Linked DNA regions of Homo sapiens: region 1 is linked to region 2. The links come from fine-mapping of genetic effects on gene expression. A gene starts in region 2. The other region holds a variant in brackets. All regions are shown on one strand. Distances are from middle to middle. Region 1 holds the start of PNMA8A (PNMA family member 8A). Region 2 holds the start of PNMA8B (PNMA family member 8B).

Region 1 (11,709 bases), 22 kb before region 2:
TGGCTTGGCCTTCGGACCCCTAGAGGTTGAGGCTGTTGCCTCGGCAGGCTGCTGGCCCCGAGGGGCCTTCTGATCTGATGCCTCCCTTCTTGAGCCTGGCCCTTTCTTTGGCATCACCGGCTTCTTCCTGCCATCTTCTGAGTCAACCAAGACGTAGGAGACAGGGCCCAAGCTCACCTTCTTCTTCTTCCTCATGGGAGCGGGGTTCTTGGCAGACACCCAGGCCACGGCCTTCTTCTTTGGTGGGCTTTCATGGCCACCATCTTGGTCTGACTCAGAGGCGCCTCCTGGGCTCTCGGCTTCTGCCCGGGCATCCTGAGGTGGCTCTCTGGGACCCTTCCAGGCACATTTCGCCATGGGCTTCTTCAAAGCCAACTCCTCCTTATTCACACAGGGCTTTCTGCTGCCCTTGATCGGCTCTGAGATCGCCATGCTTTCAGCATCACCCACCTCAGGATCCTCCAAGTTAGCTGTGCTGTTGGAATTGATGCCTTTGGGTTTTTTCCAGGGCACTGCTTCCTGCCTGGAGTTCTTCTTCTGCTTCTTTCTCCTGGAGCGAGACTTAGCTCCAGCCCTGCGAACCAAAGGTTTGGTAGGCTCATGCTGGTCTTCCGTGGCATTCCAGTTGTTGGGGGTCTCTGCCTTTAAGGCAGAACCCACCTCTGCTGCAAGCCCCGGTTCTTTCTTCACCTTCCTCCCTGCTGCTAAAGCCCAGGCTGCCATCTCCTCGAATTCAGCGGCCTCCTGGGCCCTGGCTTCCTCCCGGCTGCGGATCTCGGCATCCATGCAGAAGATGATCTGCACCACTGCTCCCAGAAGCACCCCCAGAGCTTCTGCCCAGTTCTCTGGGGGCTGATGCTGGTTCTGGGACAGGGTGGGGTGGTTGAGCTGGAGCAGGCGGACCACATCCTCCCAGGTGCGCCCCTCGGCATCCAGGAATTCATTCAGATTTTTTAAAAACTCGGCATCCTGGGTAGGGTCTCTACAGACCACTCTCCAGACACCACCCCTTCCTGGGAATTCACGGGGGATGGTGCTCAGATTCACACCTTCACCAACCTCAATGAGGGCAGCTTTAACATTCTCTTCCCTCACAAAAATCTTGTTGAGCACGCGGTACGGGCCCAGTGGGGAGAGGACCCCATTCAAGGTCTCCTCAATTTCTGCCTGCCCACAGTCCTCTGGGATGCCTGTGACCAACAAGGACCTGTGGATGTCCACTTCCATTCCCCTGCACCAATCCTCCAGAAGGTTCATCGCCATGGTCTTGGACATTTAGCGGCTCTGAACCTACTATGTGTAGTAAATAGTCTATCAGGTGGACGTGGGCTGCAGCGGTCTCCAAACAGTAATCCTGCAAGGTGACAAGGGAGCGAGGTCACGTTCCCAGGAAGATGACCAAGCTCACAGATCCTAGCTGCCCCCTCCGCGGCTGGCCTGCAGGAGGCCTGGCGCTTTCCCAACACCCTCCTCCCCAACCCAGGCCCCGGTGCTCACACGTGTCCCTGAATCTGCAGCAAAAGGCCCTAGGACCCTCCCCCGGGCCTGACGCTCCGCCTGCCCAGCCGGGACTTACTTGGCAGATCAGCCTCCGACCGCCCAGCCAGGCCAAGGAGACGCAGTGGAATGCAGCCGTTTCCCAGTCGCTGGCTCCGGCTACCCCGGCGCCGCTGCTAGAGGCAGAAAGGGCCAAGAAGGCGCCGTCCGCCCCCGCTCCGGCCCAGGCGGGTCACGGGGCGTCCAGACTCGATGCCGTTAGCGGCGAGAAGCCGAGGTTGGCGTCGCAGCGCGCGCCTGCGCACTGGCTCCCGCACCGCCGCTCGGGGGTCTTGGGCTGCGCAGGTGCCGACGTCTCCATGGCAACCGGGCGTGGGTTGCTAGGGCTGAGCCCGGCCGGCGCGCCGGCGCTGCAATTGGACCTAGGGAGCCGGGTGCAAGAGTGGCCTGTTCAGGTCGCAGAGCAAGCGGGTCTGGATACACTCCGGTGGCGCCTCCACGGAGGCCCTCTTTCAACCCAAGTGGGCCTCGCGAACGGGGGTTAGGTCGATGAGAAGCGCCAACACCTATGGCTGCACCCACTGACTGTATTATCCTCTGCCCCACCTGTTGGATTCACCCAACGCAACTCTTGGGAGACACTAGAAATCAAGAAAGGAGGAAAACGAGGCTTTAATCTTCTTGGGTTCCTCCAACAGCAGGTGCAGTTCCTGTTGGGCTTGTAGCCTTCTCTCTTACAAGCTGCTGGGTTCTTCCAGGAATTTCCAGAAACTTCTAGAAATTTCTTAGTCTCCTCCCCGACCCCTTCTAGCATGAGGATAATGCCTCGCCTTTTCTTGTTTCCTCAACGTGATTCAGGGCAGGTTCTTGGCATCCTCCAGGCAGGGGACAATGTTACAGCTCAGTGACTGCCCCTACAGAGAAGTGTTAGTCCAAACTGCAACCATTTTGTAAGCCCTGACTATTTTGCAGATCTTGGTCAAAGTGAAATATTCCACGGGGGTTCGGGCCAATGAGAAACATCCTGCCTAATCACCTGACCACAAGGCGGACAAAGGCCCAGCTAAAGAAACATTATCATACCCTATCGTGCAAAGGCCCAACTGAAGAAACATCCCTATCATATTCTGCTGGGAGAAAGTGCAGAGAACACCACATTCCACCAGAACAAGGGCCAGAACCGCCTCATCATGGAACCATCTTATCAACATCCTGCTGGGCAGCAAACCATACTGCTCAGACCCCTCCCACCCATAACTATAAGTACCCCCAGCCTATAAGCAGCAGTGGGCTCTGGCATTAGGCTGGTTACCCACTTCCACAGGTGTCTGCAGTATACCTGAGTTGCTGTTGAGCCGCCTTCTGTCTGTGTGTCTTTAACCCTCACCTTCCCTCCAAAACCTAACAAGGAGGGCTACCCTCTAGGCAGTGTGCTGAGAATAGCACCTCGGGGCAAGGCTGCAGTCACATTTATACCCACTTTTAATGACGTGCTAATTAAGGGGTGGGTTTTCAGAATTAGCAAATTGGCAGTAACTTATGGGTGTTGCCATGGCAATGGTAAACTGTCATGGTGCTGGCAGGCATGTCTTATGGAGAGAGGCTTTCGGTGCCTTTTCCAGGTTTTGGCCAGTCTTCAATGTGATCCTCAGTGGAGTCCCCTGGGCCTCCTACCTCAACCTTGCTGCCCATGAGCAAGAACTTTGTTAATAGTTTATTAATGCCCAGTGCTGTGGCTCACGCATGTAATCCCAACACTTTGGGAGGCTGAGGAGGGCGGATCACTTGAGCTGGGGAGTTCGAGACCATCCTGGGCAACATGGCAAAACCCCGTCCCTACCAAAAACGCAAAAAATTAGCCAGGTGTGATAGGGGTCACCTGTGGTCTCAGCTATTCGGGAGGCTGAGGTGGGAGGATTGCTTGAACCCAGGAGACCCTGTCTCAAAAAAAATAAACTAATTAATTAAGCACTCCTATGAGACTCGGTTGGACTGGCCATCTGTTTTTTTTTTTTTTTTTTTGCCAGTCCCTCACTGATCCACCTACCAATGTCCCTTCCTGGCTGTGTGATCTTAGAGAAATAATTTGACCCCGCTGAGCTTATTTCTTTTCTCTGTAATAGGAATTCTAATAAAAAATCTTCCTGATTTGGAAGTTTTGAAGATTCGGGGGGATCTCATCTGAAAGATGCATGGAAGTACAATTTGGGCCTTGGTATTCAACCAAAATCTGTTCTTTGGGTTCATTTTTGAAACTGACATTTGCAAGGCCAAATAGCCAAATGTTCATTTCACTGTCATCTCTGGCATTCCTAAATTTGGGCATCATCAATACTTGTGTGATTGCCCAAGTTTCCATCATATTTTGTGCTAAAAAGTTGTGTCATTCAAATCGTTAACCTCTGATTATTCACATAATTCACACCGAATATTCCAATAAACACTCTAGCTATGATTAAAGTCTTTAAATCTCATGTGCTTTATATGTTGAAATTCTACATATCAGTGGAAGAATGAGTGTATATTTTTAGGCAGTGGTTTAAAAACATAGCCATAAATTCTCCGACACTTCTATTGAGAAGTGACGATCTGTGTCCCCTCCTCGTGAATCTGAGCAGACTTGTGACTACTTTAACCAATGGAGTTTAGTGGAAAGGAAGCTATGTGGCTTCTCAGACTATGTTACAGAAGGGCACGCAGCTTCTTCCTCATTCACTGGAACACTTTTTTTTTTTCTTTTTTGAGACAGAGTCTCGCTCTGTCGCCCAGGCTGGAGTGCAGTGGCGCAATCTCGGCTCACTGCAAGCCCCACCTCCCGGGTTCACAGCATTCCAGGTTGGGAAGAACAATGAACAATTTTTCTGAGAGATGGCTAATCACAATCCCCCATGGGCACAATGACCTCTTTCTGCATGTAGCCCCCTCCAGCATACCCCTATGAAACTTCCAGTCCCTGCCTTTTTGCAGACAGCCCCCTTCTCTGCTGTGCTGCCCATTGCAACCGTGCAATGTATTTTCATATCTTCTCTAATAAATCTGCCTTTCTTTACCTACAACTGTCTTGGTAAATACCTTTACTGCCCACAACACCCGCCGCACCTAGTCGTACCCGTGACAGTTGGGGGTGACTCAAATGACTGAGAGCTAGAATCATCTGGGAGTTTCTTCACTCACATGTCTGGTGCCTGGGCTGAAATCCTTTGAAAGCTGGGCTCAGCTGGGAAATGTTGATGGAAGCACTGATGTGGCTTGGGCTTCCTCACAGCATGAAAACCAGAGGGTAGATCGTTGAACTTCTTATTTGGAAGCTCAAGGATGCAAGAACAAGAGTGTTCCTGTGAGGCTGGGCGCGGTGGCTCACGTCTGTAATCCCACCCTTTGGGAGGTTGAGGCGGGTGGATCTGGACGTCAGGAGATCGAGACCATCCTGGCTAACATGGTGAAACCCCGTCTCTACTAAAAATCCAAAAAAATTAGCCGGGCCTGGTGGCAAGCTCCTGTAATCGCAGCTACTCGGGAGGCTGAGGCAGGAGAATGGCCTGGCCAACATGGTGAGCCGAGGCTGCACCATGGCATTCCAGCCTGGGGGACAAGAG[C/T]GAGACTTCGTCTCAAAAAAAGAAAGAGAGGCCGGCGCGGGCTCACGCCTGTAATCCCAGCACTTTGGGAGGCCAAGGCGGGCGGATCGTGGGTCAGGAGATCGAGACCACCCTGGCTAACATGGTGAAACCCTGTCTCTACTAAAAATACAACAACAACAACAAAAATTAGCCGGGCGTGGTGGCGGGCGCCTGTAGTCCCAGCTACTCAGGAGGCTGAGGCAGGAGAATGGCGTGAACTCGGGAGGCAGAGCTTGCAGTGAGCCGAGATCACGCCACTGCACTCTAGCCTGGGCGACAGAGCAAGACTCCGTCTCAAAAAAAAAAAAAAAAAAAAAAGTTACTCTAGAGAAGTATTTGGGACCCCCATGGGAATGAGATGCGTCTACCACCGTAACAGGAGGGACCTCTGCATCCAGGACATCTGGGTCCAGGAACGCTAGTAGGAGTGAAGGTAGAAAAATGAAGACGGGCTGGGCACGATGGCTCACGCCTGTAATCCCAGCACTGTGGGAGGCCAAGGCAGGCAGCTCACCTGAGATCAGGGGTTCAAGACCAGCCTGACCAACATGGAGAAACCCTGTGTCTACTACTAATACAAAAATTAGCCGGGCATAGTGGTGCATGCCTGTAATCCCAGGTACTTGGGAGGCTAAGGCAGGAGAATCGCTTGAACCCAGGAGGCGGAGGTTGCGGTGAGCTGAGATTGTGCCATTGCACTCCAGCCTGGGCAACAAGAGTGAAACTCCGTCTCACAAACAAAAAAAAAAAGTAAATTATTTTTTGAAAAATAAATATAGGTTAAAATAGTGAATTTTATGTTATGTGTATTTTACTACAAAAGTGAACAAATAATGCGTTACAGAATGGAGAGATGGGGGGCAAGGGAGGGAGAGAGATGCCTTCAGCTTTGCCTCAAAAGCCAGGTTTCAGCTTTCTGCAGAGCCAATATTCCTAACAGTCCTGGCTGCCCCTTCAGGAATGCCACCCAACCCCAGTGCATGAGCACAGAATCAAAGTTCTGGAACTTTCTCTTCAAAGAGAAAACAAAACATCTCAGTGTGTTTGAAAATTCTGCTAAGGATTTGTCAGACCAAAAAAAAATAATAATAAAAAAATAAAAGAAGAAGAAGAAAATCGTCAATCTAGACAGGATAAAAAGTAAATTTATACCAGCAGTGGATTGTAAAACATCATAACTAAAATGAAATGGAATGGATGTTTGCTGAATCTCAGAGGCTTTTGCTATGTTTGCCAAGTAGTTTTACAAATGCGGGAGCTTGTTTGTGATCCAGGCTGCAGACAAAGTTGCTGCAGTGGAAACTGAGTCACACAGTGACTCAGTTAGAATTAGACACTGTCTGTTTTTTCTTCTCTCTTTTTCAGTTATTTATTTTGGCATGCAAGGGAATGACAGACACTGAGTTTTGATAAATACTGGATTTTTAAATGCAATAATCCTCCAAGTGACTATCTCTGGGGAGAAGAAGAGGGCAAGTCATATGGGAGGTAGGACACAGCCTATTTAAACAATAATTTTGTTTAAAGATGTGTAAATAAATTTAGCATAGTATTAAGATTTAATAAAGAATGGCAAGGGATACATAAGGGTTAATTATATAAATCTCTTTTTTTTTTTTTTTCTGAGACAGAGTCTTACTCTGTCCCCCAGGCTGGAGTGCAGTGGCGCACTCAGCCTCCACCTGCAGGGTTCAAACGATTCTCCTACCTTAGCCTCCTGAGTAGCCGTGATTACAGGCACGTGCCACCATGCTGAGCTAATTTTTGTATTTTTAGTAGAGAAGGGGTTTCCCCATGTTGCCCAGGCTGGTCTCAAACTGCTGACCTCAAGTGATCCGCCTGCCTCGGCCTCCCAAAGTGCTGGGATTACAGACATGAGCTGCTGAGTCCAGCCAATAATGCTAAAAAAAAAAAAAAAAAAAAAAAAAAGGTGTAAATAAATTTAGCATAGTATTAAGATTTGATGAAGAATGGCACGGGATGCATGAGGATTAGTTATATAAATATCAATTCTTTTTTTTTCGAGACTGAGTCTCACTTTGTCACCCAGGCTGGAGTGCAGTGGCGCGACCTCGGCTCACTGCAGCCTCTGCCTCCTGGGTTCAAGCAGTTCTCCTGCCTCAACCTCTCAAGTAGCTGGGATTACAGGGACCCGCCACTATGCCTGGCAAATTTTTGTACTTTGTTTTGTTTTGTTTTGTTTTAAGACGGAGTCTCGCTCTGTCACCCAGGCTGGCTTGCAGTGGCGCGATCTCGGCTCACTGTAAGCTCCACCTCCCGGGTTCACGCCATTCTCCTGCCTCAGCCTCCCAAATAGCTGAGACTACAGGTGCCCGCCACCACGCCCGGCTAATTTTTTGTATTTTTAGTAGAGATGAGGTTTCACCATGTTAGCCAGGATGGTCTCGATCTTCTGACCCCGTGATCCGCCCGCCTCGGCCTCCCAAAGTGCTAGGATTACAGGCATGAGCCACCACACCCAGCTTTTTTTCTTCTTGAGACAGGATCTTGCTCTATCTCCCAGGCTACAGTGCAGTGGCAGGATCACAACTCACTACAGACTCAACCTCCTGGGCACAAGCGAGCCTCCTGCCTCAGCCTCCTGAGTAGCTGGGACCACAGGCATGCACCACCACGCCCAGCTAATTTTTAAAATTTTTTTGTAGGGCCAGGGTATCACTATGTTGGGTAAGATGGTCTCCAACTCCTGTCTCAGCCTCCCAAAGTTCTGGAATTATAGGCATGAGCCACCGTGCCCAGTCAATTCTCTATTCTTGACTTTGAGTTTGGAATATTCCACAATTTTTATTTTATTTTATTTTATTTTATTTTATTTTATTTTATTTTATTTTATGAGATGGGGTCTCACTCTGTCACCCAGGCTGGAGTGCAGTGGCTTAATCACAGCTCACCGCAGCCTTCATCTCCTGGGCTCAGGCAGTCCTCTTGACTCAGCCTCCCAGGTAGCTGGGACTACAGGCATGTGCCACCACACCTGGCTAATTTTGCATCTTTAGTAGAGACAGGGTTTCTCCATGTTAGTCAGGCTGGTCTCGAACTCCCGACCTCAGGTGATTCACCCGCCTCAGCCTCCCAAAGTGCTGGGATGACAGGCATGAGCCACTACACCTGGTTTTTTTTTTTTTTTTTTTTTTTTTTTTTTTTTTTTTGAGACAGAGTCTTGCTCTGTCTCCTAGGCTGGAGTACAGTGGCGCACTGCAACCTCTGCCTCCCAGGTTCAAGCAATTCTCCTGCCTCAGCCTCTCAAGTAGCTGGGACTACAGGCGTGCACCACCACACCTGGCTAATTTTTGTACTTTTAGTAGAGATAGGGTTTCATCATGTTGGCCAGGCTCTCAAACTCCTGAGCTCAAGTGATCCTCCCGCCTCAGCCTCCCAAAGTGCTGGGATTACAGGCATGAGCCATTTCATTGCATCTGGCCATGTTTTTGCCATTACTTTCAATGGCAAAAACTGCAATTAATTTTGCCTCAGCCTAAATATTATAAAGGTACAACTATGTGTGTATATGTGTGTGTGCGTGTGTGTGTGAAGTGGAGTCAGCTGCCTGCCTGCTCTCCCATTAAAGAGCCACAGTGATTGCTAGCTGATTTAAAAATAGTTCAAGCACCCTTAACAGGAATCATTACAGTGGTTTCCATGACAACACGATGTGCTGTGGTTTCCAAGGCAACAACTGGCACTGTGGTTTCCATGACAAAGCATCCCTGCAGCCCCAACCCTCCCCTCCATCTCTGCACTTCCAGTTTAGGGTTCTCCTTCCATCCTCTTCCGCTGTGTTTCACCTTTGAGTTTTTATTTTGCCCTGCTGTGTATGTTCAGTGAGAACCCACAGAGTTTCCATAAACACTGAACCCAAAGAAAGTCCAGGGGGCTCTGGGATCCCGCCTAGATGTTTCCTCCTGAGTCAGTTGCAACAACCCATCATGGTGGTTCTGTGACTCAACCTGGCTGGCTCTGTCCAATTTGTTCTGTGAGAGCCCCTTCTTGCTGCAGAGTTTCCTTTTTTAAATTATTTTTTTTCTTTTCTTTTCTTTTCTTTTTAATTGAGGCAGAATCTTGCTCTGTCACTCAGGCTGGAGTGCAGTGGTGCGATCTCAGCGAGGATTACAGGTGCATGCCACCATGCCCGGCTAATTTTTGTATTTTTAGCAGAGGCAGGGTTTCACCATGTTGACCAGGCTGGTCTCAAACTCCTGACCTCAGGTGATCTGCCCGCCTCGGCCTCCCAAAGTGCTGGGATTACAGGTGTGAGCTACCATGCCTGGCTTTATTTTCTATTATATCTACGTGTGTGTGTGTCTCCTAGGTCACAGCAAAATGTATTTCTTATCACGGATCATGATCAAACACATGTGACAGCCACTGCCATAGGTTAATTACCGAGTCCCCTATGGATGGCTATGCAGGTCGTTCTCTATTTTCCGGTCTTTCAAATGAAGAGCTGAGAAGGGCTGGTGGCTGATGCCCTACAGACATCTATGTTGCTTGGATTCAGGTGTGACTTCTTAACTTGTTTGAAAATATGGCCGGGCGCGGTGGCTCACCCCTGTAATCCCAGCACTTTGGGAGGCTGAGGCGGGTGGATCACGAGGTCAGGAGATCGAAACCATCCTGGCTAACATGGTGAAACCCTGTCTCTACTAAAAAAAAAATACAAAAATGTAGCCGGATGTGGTGGCAGGCGCCTGTAGTCCCAGCTCTTCGGGAGGCTGAGGCAGGAGAATGGCGTGAACCCGGGAGGCGAAGCTTGCAGTGAGCCAAGATTGTGCCACTGCACTCCAGCTTGGGCAACGGAGTGAGACTCCGTCTCAAAAAACAAAAAATAAATAAAATATGATGCTTTTCAAAAGTTACAGTGTCAGCTGGTTGCAGTGGCTCACGCCTGTAATCCCAGCACTTTGGGAGGCTGAGGCGGGCAGATCACTTGAGGTCAGGAGTTCGAGATTAGCCTGCCCAACATGGTGAAACCCCGTCTCTACTAAAAATGCAAAAATTAGCTAGGCATGGTGGCCCATGCATGTAATCCCAACTACTCAGGAGACTCAGGAGAATCGTTTGAACCCGGGAGGTGGAGGTTGCAGTGAGCCAAGATCACACCACTGTACTCCAGCGTGGGTGACAGAGCAAGACTCTGTCTCAAAAAATAAAATAAAATAAATGAAATAAAATAAAATAGCCCGAGATGGGAGGATTGCTTGAGGCCAAGAGTTCAAGGCTAGGCAACATAGGGAGACACCTGCCCTCCCACCAACCCTGTGTCTATTTGTAAGATAAAAAATTAAAAACGGCCGGGTGCAGTGGCTCATGCCTGTGATCCCAGCACTTTGGGGGGCCGAGGCGGGTGGATCATGAGGTCAAGAGATCAAGACCATCCTGGCCAACATGGTGAAACCCCGTCTCTACTAAAAATCCAAAAATTAGCCAGGCGTGGTGGCAGGCACCTGTAGTCCCAGCTACTCGGGAGGCTGAGGCAGGAGAATTGCTTGAACCTGGGATGTGGAGGTTGCAATGAGCCGAGATCGCGCCACTGCACTCCAGCCTGGTGACAGAGCGAGACTCCGTCTCAAAAAACAAACAAAACATTAAGAACATAAAGTCCAGTAGTTTTATGCCACAATCCTAGCAACTCTATCCTGGGCCGTTCTGAGTTAGCTCTCTCTCTCTCTCTGGAAATAACCAATAAAACCTTAGGATTATGCGGCGGGAGAAGAGATGTGTTCTCCTTTGAGCTGGGGCGGGAGGCGGGGGTGGTGGTCGGGTTACAGCCACAGCTGCAGGCCCTGAATTTCCTTCTGACAGAAAAAACGCCAGCAGCTGTCTCCACTCTCTACAGTGAGGGAACAACATTCCAAGTGAGGAATTGTGGCCAGGAAACCGAGAGGCCCCATGTCCTTTTCTTTTCTTAATGTATTTTTTCTGAAACACACACACACATACATTAAAAACAATCCACCAATAGGATTACATTCATGTAAGATTCAAACATAATCAAATCTACCGTGTGGAGAAATTCATAGTTTGTTAATAAGCATACACGTGTATAGAAAAGGCAGCGTTTATCACAAAACAGGATGTTATTTATCCCTGGGGCAGGGAGGGATTTGAGATGGCCAGAGCACATGAGGGGCTTCTGGGAGGACGATGATTTCTAGATCAGATGACAGTAACATAGGACTTGCTATGTAATTATTTGCCAAATTATATATTTGTGTTTAGGGCACGTTTCTGGAGGCATGTTACATATTCTACAATTGTAAAAAAATGTTTTTTTAAAAAACACAGCTACACATTCAGGGTTATAGCGGTGAAATAAATGTTATCACTATTTTTTTCTAGAATATTCTATGGCTGAAAACCTGAACGCAGCAGTAAAAGTACACGTTTTTAAAACGACTCATAAACCAAATGCACAAAACACAGTCAGGTGAAGTTTCTCTCATTTGTTACGGAGGTTGGTCGTATTTCTTCCTGGTGCCTGGAAGACGTCACGTGGTCTGAACACAGTCTTGGCTGGTGATGATTCCTGATTTTTGTCTGAAATCCTTGGCCAAAGAAAAGAAAGAGAACAAAT
Region 2 (11,592 bases):
GGCTTCGGAGCTGAGGCTGGAAGTGGGGAGGCATCAGGGGTGGGAGTGGAAGCTGGCTCAGATCTGCAAGGGGTGAGATGATGCTGGGGGGTAGGGAGAGCCAGGCAGGGATCCCGAAGCAGCAAAGGACAGTGTATGTAAACCAGTGACAGGACAGTTCCCAGGTATTCTGGGCAAACCACAGTCAAGACCGTGGACATCTGTGGCCCACGCTCCCACACCCCGCCTGCCCCACTGCCCAGAGCACAGAGAGAGTACAGTGCTGAATTTCACTTTACTGGAGGATCCAGGTGACACAGGGCACAGGGAGAGAAGCCTAGGACTGCTACGGGAGAAGCACACCTGGGGCCCTCCCCACCCACAGGCAACACCACAGGCTGCTGTGCCCAGCTCAAGGTACACCCAGCCTGGTCCTCAGTGGGTGGGTCACTGTCCAGGGACAGCCTCCAAGCAGAGGGGAGCACCCACGCCCTGCAGCAGGTCTCAGTCAGCTTCTACATCTGGGTGTCCCTGACATAGGACTGGGACAGTCTGGTCTGGACTGTGAGGTCACACCCAAACCCTCCTATTCCTTCCCAGGGACAAGTGGGGCAGGGCCCCCTGGCACGATGGGCTCCTCACTGCCAGGGAATGGAAATTGGGACGAGGAAGCACACACATTGCCCCAGGGACAAGAAGGCATGAATGAAGGTGGGGTCCCGTGGAGACTGATATTTAGGTAAAAATCGAGCTCAGCCGGGGTTGCAGGAGCTGAAGCATACGGCACGGCACGGCACAGACTCACATACAACTCAAGCGTGCTTGGGACAGCAGGTTGTGAAGCCTCACAGCACCGGCCCGCCTACTCTGGAACCTCCAGGGCAGGGCTGGGGTTTCCTCCCCAGGTCATTTCATCCCCTGTAAGGAGGGACACGCGGCCGGCTTCTGCACTGCCCAGGTGAGCCTCTGTCCCTCACAGTGCCCTTCGGGGCCCCTCTGGCCTTTAATTCACTCAGGGGGTGAACCCAGGGACTTTCAAGTCTTTTAGTAAGGGCTGCAAGGCCAGCGCTGAGCGGTGGGTCAGCTCCACTGGAGAGGGGGCACCCAGGGGAGCCACAGCCTATGGGAGGGGCCAGGGCCCACTCAGCCCAGAAGAACCAAAACTGGATTTTAAGTGAATTACCCCAAATTGAACACCTCTGCAAATAATTAGAATGTTGGGAAACACTGCAGTCTGAGTGACAAATTCAACTTGTGGTCAGGGGCAGGTGGCCTTGGCCTGGGGCTGGTTCCTTTGTTATCAGGGGCGCCCCAGTAGGCAGGGCTGGCATGTGTCTTCCCTCTGCTCCCCCCTCCCCCTCCTCCTCCTCTTTCCCTTCTCCCACCGTTCCTCTCCCCTTTCCTCCTCCTCCCCTTCCCAACCGCCTTCTATCTCTCAGACTTTCCTTTCTGGAATCATCTCTTCCCCTGGCTGGGAGCTGGGGCCTCCCCTGGCTGAGAGTTGCGCCCTGACACGCGCTGCGCGGCTGGTGACTGAGCCTCCACCACAGACCCAGGGCCCAGTCAGACTGGGGTAGGGGCGACAGCGGCCTACAGCACCTGCCAGGCGCAGGCCCCGAGAGCGCCACGAAGAGCCCTGCTCGCCTCTGCAGGTGCCCGGCGTCCACACACACACCCCCTCCGGGGGCAACCCGGGCCCCCAATCCTGGTCCACTTGGCGCGTCCCCATCTCGGCCCTGCGCTGCTGCCTCGGGCGCCCACTTCTCTTTCCTCCTCCCATCCGGGCTTCCTCCGTCGGGATCGCTGGCGCCCCCGGCCTGCGAGGGCCCGAGAGGGGAACGTGACGCTGGCAAAACGCGGCCCGGGCGCGCTGTGAAGCGAGGAGATTGCGTCTGCGGAGGACAGGAAGAGGGGAGGGGAGGGCGGGGGCCACAGGCGGGCGGGTGCCCTGCGGGGCCTGCTCGCAGCCTGGGCGGCTTCTTGGGGGGCCACTAGCGGCATTTAGGGGGCAGCCTCCGGCCCCGACGGGCCTTCTTCCCGCGCGCGGCCTTGGATCCAGTGGGCGCCTGGCCCTTGGCCTCGCCTGCCCTGGCATGGGCCCCGGCGCCCGCGCTCCCCTTCTTCTTCCTGCTTCCTGCGGCGTCGTCCTGGGCCGAGCCCCGGCTCCCGGCTTTCTTCTCGGGAGTGACGCCCCGGCCTCGGCCTCGGCCGCCCGCGCGGGTTTTGCGGGCCCCGGAAGCGGTGGGAGGCGCGCCGGCCGGAGTCAGGCCCCTGGGGGCCGTGCGCGCCCTCTTGGCCCGGGGCTTCCTGGATGCCCTGTCCTCCGGCTCCGACGCCTCGCTCTCGGTGTCCTCCGACTCCTCCTCGGACTGTTCGTCCGAAGCCTCCTCCGACCCCTCGTTGGACCCCATGTTCTCCCGGGCGGCCAGGAGCGCCAATACCTCCCCCAGTTTGCCTTTGGGGTATTTGTACTTCCCGCCTTCCCAGGCGTTTTCTTTTTCCTCCTTCATCACCTCCGCCATGTCCTGGGCAGCCAGGAGCGCCACCAGCTCCAGAAGACCCCCTTCGTCCTCACGGTGCTCGCTCCAGCCCCCGAAGAGGCCACGCCCAGCCTTCTTCGCCTGGGGAGGGAGATCCGGCTGCGCCAAGGTGGAAATGCACTCCCGGAGGTCCCCGTCATCCCCGGCCTTGCGCAGGACCACGGCGTCCACCTCGCGGCCCGCCTCTTCCACCTTCACGCGGGTCCCGTTAGTGTCCTTGGACATGACGGACAAGACCTGTCGGAGGGGGTCTCGCTTGTCTTTCTCGTCGCTCCAGCCCAGCGACTCGATAACAGAAGCGATTTTCAACATCTCCTCCCGGGCCCAGGGGTCCGACGGGTCGGTATAGGCCACAATGGCCACGAACTCAGGATTATCCAACTCCTCTGTTTCTTGGTCCCCACTTTCCTGCGAGTCGCTCTCCGAAGTGTCGCTGTCCACCGGCTCCTCGTCCGGGGTGTCTCTCACAGCCAGCAGGGCCACTAAGTCGGGGACACCATTTTTGTCTTCTTTGGTGTTCAAGCGGATGGATTCGGCCCCAGCTGGCTCCTTCTCTGCCTCTTCTTTCTTCGATTTGTCGGTGACGGTGACCAGAGCCAAGAACTCGCGGGGACCGTCTTCTTCCCCCTCGGAGTTGCAGGGCGCCCACTGCCTAACCAGCTCCCTGGCAGCGGCCTGCAGCGTGGCGTACAGCGCGCTCTGGTCCTCTTCTCCGCTCAGGTCGCCCTGGTCGATCTCCTCGATCACGATGCCCAGGCTCTCGTCGGAAGAGTCCTCGGCCTCACTCCTCGCGGGAGCAGACGGCCGTCCTCCTCGGCTTCTCTTCTTGCCCTTCTGGGTCAACCTGTTGCGTCTGGTTCTGTTTCTGCGACCCCGACGGCCCCTCCTTGGGTTCCTGGCTGCCCCAAGAAGCGAGCCAGCCTGCCCTGTTACCTCCCCAGAATCCTGGGCCTGCGTCTCCGAAGCGGGAGGGGTGGGTGCCTCCCCGGGGGTCCCAGCCTCCGCGGCCTGCGTGGGCCCGTCATCCAGCAGCAGGCGTCTCATCTGCCTCAGGACCCTCGTGTCCTGCGCACGGTCCTTCCACAGAACCCTCCAGACCCCATCCTTGCCTGGGATCTCCCTGGGAATGGCAGCGTGATTGACGTCCTCCACAAACTCCACCAGGGCGGCCTGGGCCTTCTCGTTCATCAAAGCCTTCATGTGTCGCAACCTGAACGTGCCCAGGGGCAGGAGGGTCGGCTGCAGGACGGCTTCGACGTCTGCCTGCTCCAGGCCCTCCGGGATGCCGGTGACCAGCAGGGCCCTGTGCGCGTCCACGTCCAGGCTCCGGCACCAGTCCTGCAAAAGGCTCATGGCCATGGTGCAGCCCCCTTGGCGCTGATCTTGGGGCAGCAGGGAGCCCGAGATAGGGGTGGGCTGCAGCGCACGGTGTCAATGCAACCCTAGAAAGCCACTTGCAGGGCTTAGAGTCCCGGTTCCGGTGAATGTGGCAAGGCTGGAGTGGGGCTCGGGGCTCGGGGGCTCTAGCTGCCTGCTGGCCGGCTGGACGCAGTGACCTTCCCCCGGGACCCCTCTCCAGAGCTGTCTGAGGATCCGCGGGGGGCTTACGTGTCTGCTTTCCAGGACAGCTCCCTCCCTCTCTCCCTGACACAGGCCTGAGTGACTCGGCACCGCAGCCAGGTGCAGGGGGGCGGCGCCGAGTGCACCTGGAGAGGCGTGGGAGGTAGCAGCCGCAGCTTGCCTGGCGCTCGCGCCGCGTCTGAGCGCGCACCCTGGGCCTGAATCTCAGCAGTTCCGCTGCGACGCGGCTGCTCGCGCGTGCGCCTGCGCAGAGGGAGCCGCACACCCTCCCCTGTCCCCCGCCCAACCGTCTCCATGGCAACGGTGCAGCCTTGAGCTGGGGTCTGCGTCGCTGTGGCCTGAGACGCTTTTCTTAAAGGTCCCGATGACAAGGACTTGGGGCCTGGAAGCACCACTTTCATTAACCAGCAAAAAACAAGGCCGAAACCACAGAGGGCCAGAAATCACTCAAGGATACCCGACCTCATTCAGGGGATAGAGGCCTCCTTCCAGAGGGTACCGGCATCACTGGGGGTTACAATTCCCCCTTCCAGGGGCCAGGTGGAATTCAGGATTATATAGGCCTAAATCAAAGGGCACTGGCCTTGCAGCGTAGGACCAGGACTTACTCGGGATACTGGCCTCATTCACAGTATATGGGTCTCAGTATCAAATAGGGGGGCCCAGGCACCACCTGTGAGCAAGACACCATTCAGGGTATATGGGCCTCACTTGCAGGGTACAGGCCCCACTCGATGGGACCGGCCCTCACTCCCATACACGTTCCTGTATTCTGAACTATGCATGCACAATAAATCCTGTGGTTTTGCACACGCTTTGAGCATATGTATGATTGTGAGACCAGGCATGAATTTTGCAAGAAAGCATTTCCCTTGACTGGGACAGCAGACTGGGGCGTGTGAACGTCAGTCATAGCTACTGTAAACATGCATTTGCTTCTCTGTCCCTTGTTGGCCATGAGGCTGTCCCCTACTCTATATGAATCTGGCTCTGTAGACCAGCTGGTAGGTTTATATCTCAACCATCATCCCTACCTCAAAGGGTTTTGTTTTTTTGTTGTTGTTTGTTTTGGAGATGGAGTCTTGCTCTGTCACTCAGGCTGGAGTGCAATGGCACAATCTTGGTTCACTGCAACTTCCGCCTCCCATGTTCAAGCGGTTCTCCTGCCTCAGCCTCCTGAGTAGCAAGGATGACAGGCCTCCCAAGTAGCTGGGATTATAGGCATACACCATCACGTCTGGCAAGTTTTTGTATTTTTTGTAGAGATGGGTTTTTACCATGTTACCCAGGCTGGTCTCAAACTCCTAACCTCAAGTGATCTGCCCGCCTCAGCCTCTGAAAGTGCTGGGATTACAGGATTACATGGTGAGCCACCATGCCTGGCCTCAAAGGGTTCTCATGAGGATTAAAGGGAATAATCCAGGAAAGCATTTAGAAGAGCAGCTGGCCCACAGCTGGTGCTCCATGAAAGATGGCTAAGAGAAGTATTTGTTGAGAACTTACCATTATAAAAGCATCTGTTTTGTTGGTTTGTTTTTGAGATGGAGTCTTGCTCTGTCGCCCAGGCTGGAGTGCAATGGAGCAATCTCGGCTCACTGCAACCTCCACCACCCGGGTTAAAGCCATTCTCCTGCCTCAGCCTCCCGAGTAACTGGGACTACAGGCATGCACCACCATGCCTGACTAGTTTTTTGTTTGTTTGTTTGTTTGAGAGAGAGTCTCGCACTGTCACTCAGGCTGGAGGGCAGTGGCGTGATCTTGGTTCACTGCAACCTCCGCCTCCCGGCTTCAAACCATTCTCCAGCCTCAGCCTCCCAAGTAGCTGAGATTACAGGTGCCCGCCACCACGCCCAGCTAATTTTTTGTATTTTTAGTAGAGACGGGGTTTCACTATGTTGGGCAACCTTGTCTCAAACTCCCAACCTCGTGATCCGCCCGCCTCGGCCTCCCAAAGTGCTGGGATTACAGGTGTGAGCCACCGTGCCCGGCCTAGTTTTGTATTTTTAGTAGATGGATTTTCACCATGTTGGCCAGGCTGGTCTGGAACTCCTGACCTCGGGTGATCTGCCGGCGTCGGCCTCCCAAAGTGCTGGGATTACAGGCACGAGCCACCGTGCTCAGCCCAAAGCATCTGTTAATAAACAAATAAATAGGAAACCAAAACACCTCGAGTTTTTTGTTTTTGCCACCAGGCCCAACCCCTTACTTTTGTGTTTGGATTTTTTTATGTTTAAGGAGAGTTTAACTGCAAGGTTACCACAGCAACTGGGCAAACCGCTTACTCACTCCTATTTTCCCCCACTTTTTCCTCCTCTGATCTTCCTGATCCACAGATGGATGTGATGTGACTCTTTTCTCCAGAGCAGCGTTGTCCAGCAGGAATAGAATGCCAGCCCCAAATTCGAACCGCACGTGCAATGTTAAAACTCCTAGTTGCAGCCAGCCAACACTGACCTCAGGTGGTCCACCCACCTCAGCCTCCCAAAGTGCTGGGATTACAAAGTGTCATTTTTGACATTTGAATCTCCAATCTAGGCTGGGCATGGTAGCGCACGCCTGTAATCCCAGCTACTTGGAGGCTGAGGCAGGAGAATCACATGAACCTGGGAGGCAGAGGTTGTTGCATTGAGCCGAGATTGCGCCACTGCACTCCAGCCTGGGAGACAGAGCAAGACGCTGTCTCAAAAAAACCAAACCAAACCAAACCAAACCAAACCAAAACAAAACAAAAAACGAGCTGCTTTTTCTGCATCTATTGATCTAAAAAAAGAAGAAATATGGTGACTCACCATGTAATCCTGTAATCCCAGCACTTTCAGAGGCTGAGGCGGGCAGATCACTTGAGGTTAGGAGTTCGAGACCAGCCCGGGCAACATGGTGAAAACCTATCTCTACAAAAAATACAAAATTTCCTAGGGGGCCACCTTCAATAAATAGAAAAGAGGGAAGAAAAATGAATTTTAAGAATAGATTTTGGCCAGGCGCAGTGGCTCACGCCTGTAATCCCAGCACTTTGGGAGGCCGAGGCAGGCAGATCACTTGAGCCCAGGAGTTTGAGACCGGCCTGGCCAACATGGCAAAACCTCGTCTCTACAAAAAATACAAAAGTTAGCCAGGCTTAGTGACACACATCTGTAGTCCCTGATACTCAGGAAGCTGAGGTAGGAGGATTGCTTCAGCCCAGGAGATCAAGGCTGAAGTGAGAGATGATCATGCTACACTGCACTCCAGCTTGGGCAAGAGAATGACCCTGTCTCAAAAAAAAAAAAAAAAAAAAAAAAAAAAAAAAAAAAAAAAAGGAAAAGGAAAAAGAAAAAGAAAATAAAGAATATATATTATTTATCCCGAAATATACAAAGTGTTGTCATTTGCACAAGTTGTCAATGTAAAACAATTATTTATGAGCTATCAGACACTCTCTTTTCATAATGAGTCCCTTTGGAGTAGCCGTATTTCAAGGGCTCAGCAGCCACACAGGGCCATTGGGAATTTGTTTGCAAGAATTAATTAGGGGGAGAGAGAGAGAGAGAGAGAGTGTGTGTGTGTGTGAATACACTCAGCACAACTGTTATTTATAACTGCAAGATTGGAAAACACAACAAAAAGAGAAACAGGAAGCTTGCACTTTGTGTGTGTGTGTGTGTGTGTGTGTGTGTGTATTTTAGAGTCAGAGTCTTGCTGTCTCCCAGGCTAGAGTGCAGTGGCATGACCATGGCTCACTGCAGTCTTGAACTCCTGGCTTCAAGCACCTCTCCCACCTCAGCCTCCAGAGTAGCTGGAACTGCAGCACACCACCACGCCTGGCTAATTTTATTTTTTGTAGAGATGGGGTCTTGTTATGTTGCCCAGGCTGGTCTCAAACTCCTGGGCTCAAGTGATCCTCCTTCCTTGGCCTCCCAAAATGCAGGGATTGCAGGCGTGAGCCATCATGCCCGATGAAGCTGACACTTTTCTAAGTCGTTGTGGATAACCACAGGTGAAATTCTTGTAAAAATGAAGATTCATATACCATATAACCCACCCATTTAAAGTGCACAACTCAATGGCTGTTAGTTCATTCAGAGTTGTGTGACCAACACCACGATTGATTTTAAAACATTTTCATCACCTCAAAAAGAAATCCCACACTGCTTAGCCATCACCCTCCAACCCTCTAATCTCCCCCCAGCCCCCGGCAACCACTAATCTGCTTTCTGTCTCTACGGACTTCCCCATTCTGGACATTTCATATGAATGGAGTCATACAATATGTTGTTCCTTTGTGTCTGGCTTCTTTCACTCAGCATCATTTGTTCAGTGTTGTGTGGCAAGTGTCATCCAATACTCTGTTCCATTTATTTAGAGACAGAGTCTCGCTCTGTCACCCAGGCTGGGGTGCAGTGGCACAATCTCAGCTCACTGCAACCTCTGCCTCCCGAGTTCAAGGAGTTCTCCGAGTTCACCTGCCTCAGCCTCCCGAGTAGCTGGGATTACAGGCACCCACCGCCACACCCAGTTATTTTTGTATTTTTAGTACAGACAGGGTTTCACCATGTTGGCCAGGCTGGTCTCAAACTCCTGACCTCAGGAGTTTGCCTGCCCATCTGCCCATCTCGGTCTCCTAAAGTGCTGGGATTTCAGGTGTGAGCCACTGCACCCAGCCTCCATTCTTTTTATGGCTGAGCAATGTTCCATGGAATGGATAAATCAAATTTTCTTTATCCATTCATCAGTTGATGGACATTTGGGTTGTTTGCACTTTTGGGCTATCATGAATATGCTAGGAACATAGGAGCATGATGGATATGCTGTGTGCAAATTTCTATGTAGACATATGTTTTCATTTCTCTTGGGCAGACACTTTTAGGAGAGGAATCCCGGGGCACATGGTAACTCTATGTTGAGTCATTTGAGGGGCTGAAGGGATGCTTTTAGCAATGGTCAACGCAGAGCAAGAGTCTTTCCTACTTCCCACAAAGCCGCTGTAAGTGCTAAAATGGAGTTAGGTTCTGGACCCAGATCATTGTAGACTGATTTTTCAACAGTGTCACAGGCTGGATGGCTTAGATAACAGAAATCTATTTTCTCCCAGTTCCAGAGTCTGGAAGTCCAAGATCAAAGTGCCATCCGGGTTAGTCTTTTACATTTGCCCAATAACCAAGCAAGTCACTTTGTCTCTTCATGGCTCTGTGGCCCCAGTTTATCGTGAGGTTGTGAGGATTTAAGCGGGATGTGTGTGTGTGTGTGTGTGTGTGTGTGTGTGTGTGTGTGTGTGTTGGAACAGTGCCTGGCCCTGAGTGTTACTGGGACAAAGATTTCATTCTCACCGTGGGACAGGATGAGGTGGCACGCTGGAATGCAGAGGGGACTCCCCAGGAGAGCGTCTGGTTTATAAGAGGACCCAAAGGTACAGAGGCTGAATTATGTCTCTTTAAAATTCATATGTTGGAGCCTGGGTGTGGTGGCTCACGCGTGTAATCCCATCATTCTGGGAGGCTGAGGCAGGTGGATTGCTTGTGGTCAGGAGTTCGAGACCAGCCTGGCCAACATGGCGAAACCCCATCTCTACTAAAAATACAAAAATTAGCCAGGTGTGATGGTGAGTGGCTGGAATCCCAGCTATTCAGGAGGCTGAGGCAGGAGAACCGCTTGAACCTGGAAGGCGGAGGTTGCAGTGAGCTGAGATTGTACCACTGAACTCCAGCCTGGGTGACAGGCATGACTGTCTCTAAATAAATAAATAAAATAAAATAAAATAAAATAAAATAAAATAAAATAAAATAAAATTCATATGTTGGGCTGTGTGTGGTGGCTCACACCTGTAATCCCAGCACTTTGGGAGGTTAAGGCAGGCAGATCACTTGAGGCCAGGAGTTCAAGACCAGCCTGCCCAACATGGTGAAACCCCATCTCTACCAAAAATACCAAAATTAGCTGGTCATGGCCAGGCATGGTGGCTCATGCCTGTAATCCCAGCACTTTGGGAGGCTGAAGTGGGTGGATCATGAGGTCAGGAGATCAAGACCATCCTGGCTAACACAGTGAAACCCCGTCTCTACTAAAAATACGCAAAATTAGCCAGGTGTGGTGGTGGGCACCTGTAGTCCCAGCCACTTGGGAGGCTGAGGCAGGAGAATGGTGTGAACCCGGGAGGCAGAGCTTGCAGTGAGCCGAGATTGCGCCACTGCACTCCAGCCTGGGCAACAGAGTGAGACTCCCGTCTGAAAAAAAAAAAAAGAAAAGAAAAATTAGCTGGTCATGTTGGCAGGTGCCTGTAATCCCAGCTACTCAGGAGGCTGAGGTGGGAGGATTGCTTGGGCCTGCCAGGTCGAGGCTGCAGTGAGCCATGACTGAGCCACTGCACTCCAGCCTGGATGACAGAGTAAGACCCTGTCTCAAAAAAAAAGAAAAAAAAAAAAAAGGATAGACTATGAACCCCAAGCCCTGTGCACAGAAGATCTTACAGGGACCAGCCAGGCAGGGACATCAGGATCCCCAACATGTCCTGCCCAGTCCCGCCCTGGGCATTTCCCCTGGAATCATGATCTCTTCTTAGGCAGAGATGAGCCTATGACTGACCAAGCCACTGCCTGTAAGGTTCCAATGGAAACAGCTGGAAGAAAGGGCGTAAAGCGTTCAAGGCCGGGCGTGGTGGCTCACGCCTGTAATCCCAGCACTTTGGGAGACCGAGGCGGGTGGATCACATGAGGCCAGGAGTTCAAGACCAGCCTGGACAACATGGTGAAACCCCGTCTCTACTAAAAATACAAAAATTAGCTGGGCCTGATGGCATGCACTTGGAGTCCCAGCAACTCAGGAGACTGAGGTGGGAGGATCGCTTGAAAAAATTGTTCGAAATTCTTCTCCCCCTCATTTTGTGTTCGAGAAAAATACAAGTGAATCTGCTTAACTGGAAATGGCGCTATTGGAGCAAGGGTTCTCTTTCTTTGTTTTCGTTTTTTTTTTTTCGAGACGGAGTCTCACTCTGTTGCCCAGGCTGGAGTGCAGTGGCGCAATCTCAGCTCACTGCAAGCTCCGCCTCCCGGGTTCACGCCATTCTCCTCCCTCAGCCTCCCAAGTAGCTGGGACTACAGGTGCCTGCCACCACATCCGGCTAATTTTTTAATTTTTTTAGTAGAGACGGGGTTTCACCGTGTTAGCCAGGATGATCTCAATCTCCTGACCTCGTGATCCGCCCGCCTCAGCCTCCCAAAGTGCTGGGATTACAGGTGTGAGCCACCGCCCCCGGCCAGAGCAAGGGTTCTCAAAGTGTGGTCTGGGGACCTCTACGGGTTGCAAGGACATTCCAGGGCATCCATCAGATAAAAACCATTTTCATAATACTAAACCATTATTTGTCTTTTCACTCTTACTCTCTTACCAGTGTTCAGTGGAATTTTCCAGAGGCTACATGCCGTGCCGTATTGCAGCTGACTGAACCAGGAGGCAGGTCAAGGATTGTTGAGCCAGATATCAAAGTGAGTTGAAAAACACCAAAATACTACAGTGCCAC

The links. PIP is the estimated chance that this variant, and not a neighbour inherited with it, causes the effect.
Region 1: its variant is fine-mapped to the expression of PNMA8B in whole blood (TOPMed, PIP 0.91).

What each region holds. Positions count from the first base shown.
Region 1 is chr19:46,469,761-46,481,469 of GRCh38, forward strand. It overlaps PNMA8A (PNMA family member 8A), which reads right to left and starts at 1,803. Exons shown (of 3, transcript NM_018215.4): 1 at 1,577-1,803; 2 at 1-1,354. The coding sequence starts at 1,275. The variant C/T (reference allele first, on the strand shown) is at 5,094.
Region 2 is chr19:46,491,588-46,503,179 of GRCh38, forward strand. PNMA8B (PNMA family member 8B) reads right to left here and starts at 4,280. Exons shown (of 1, transcript NM_020709.3): 1 at 1-4,280. The coding sequence starts at 3,878. The coding sequence ends at 1,971.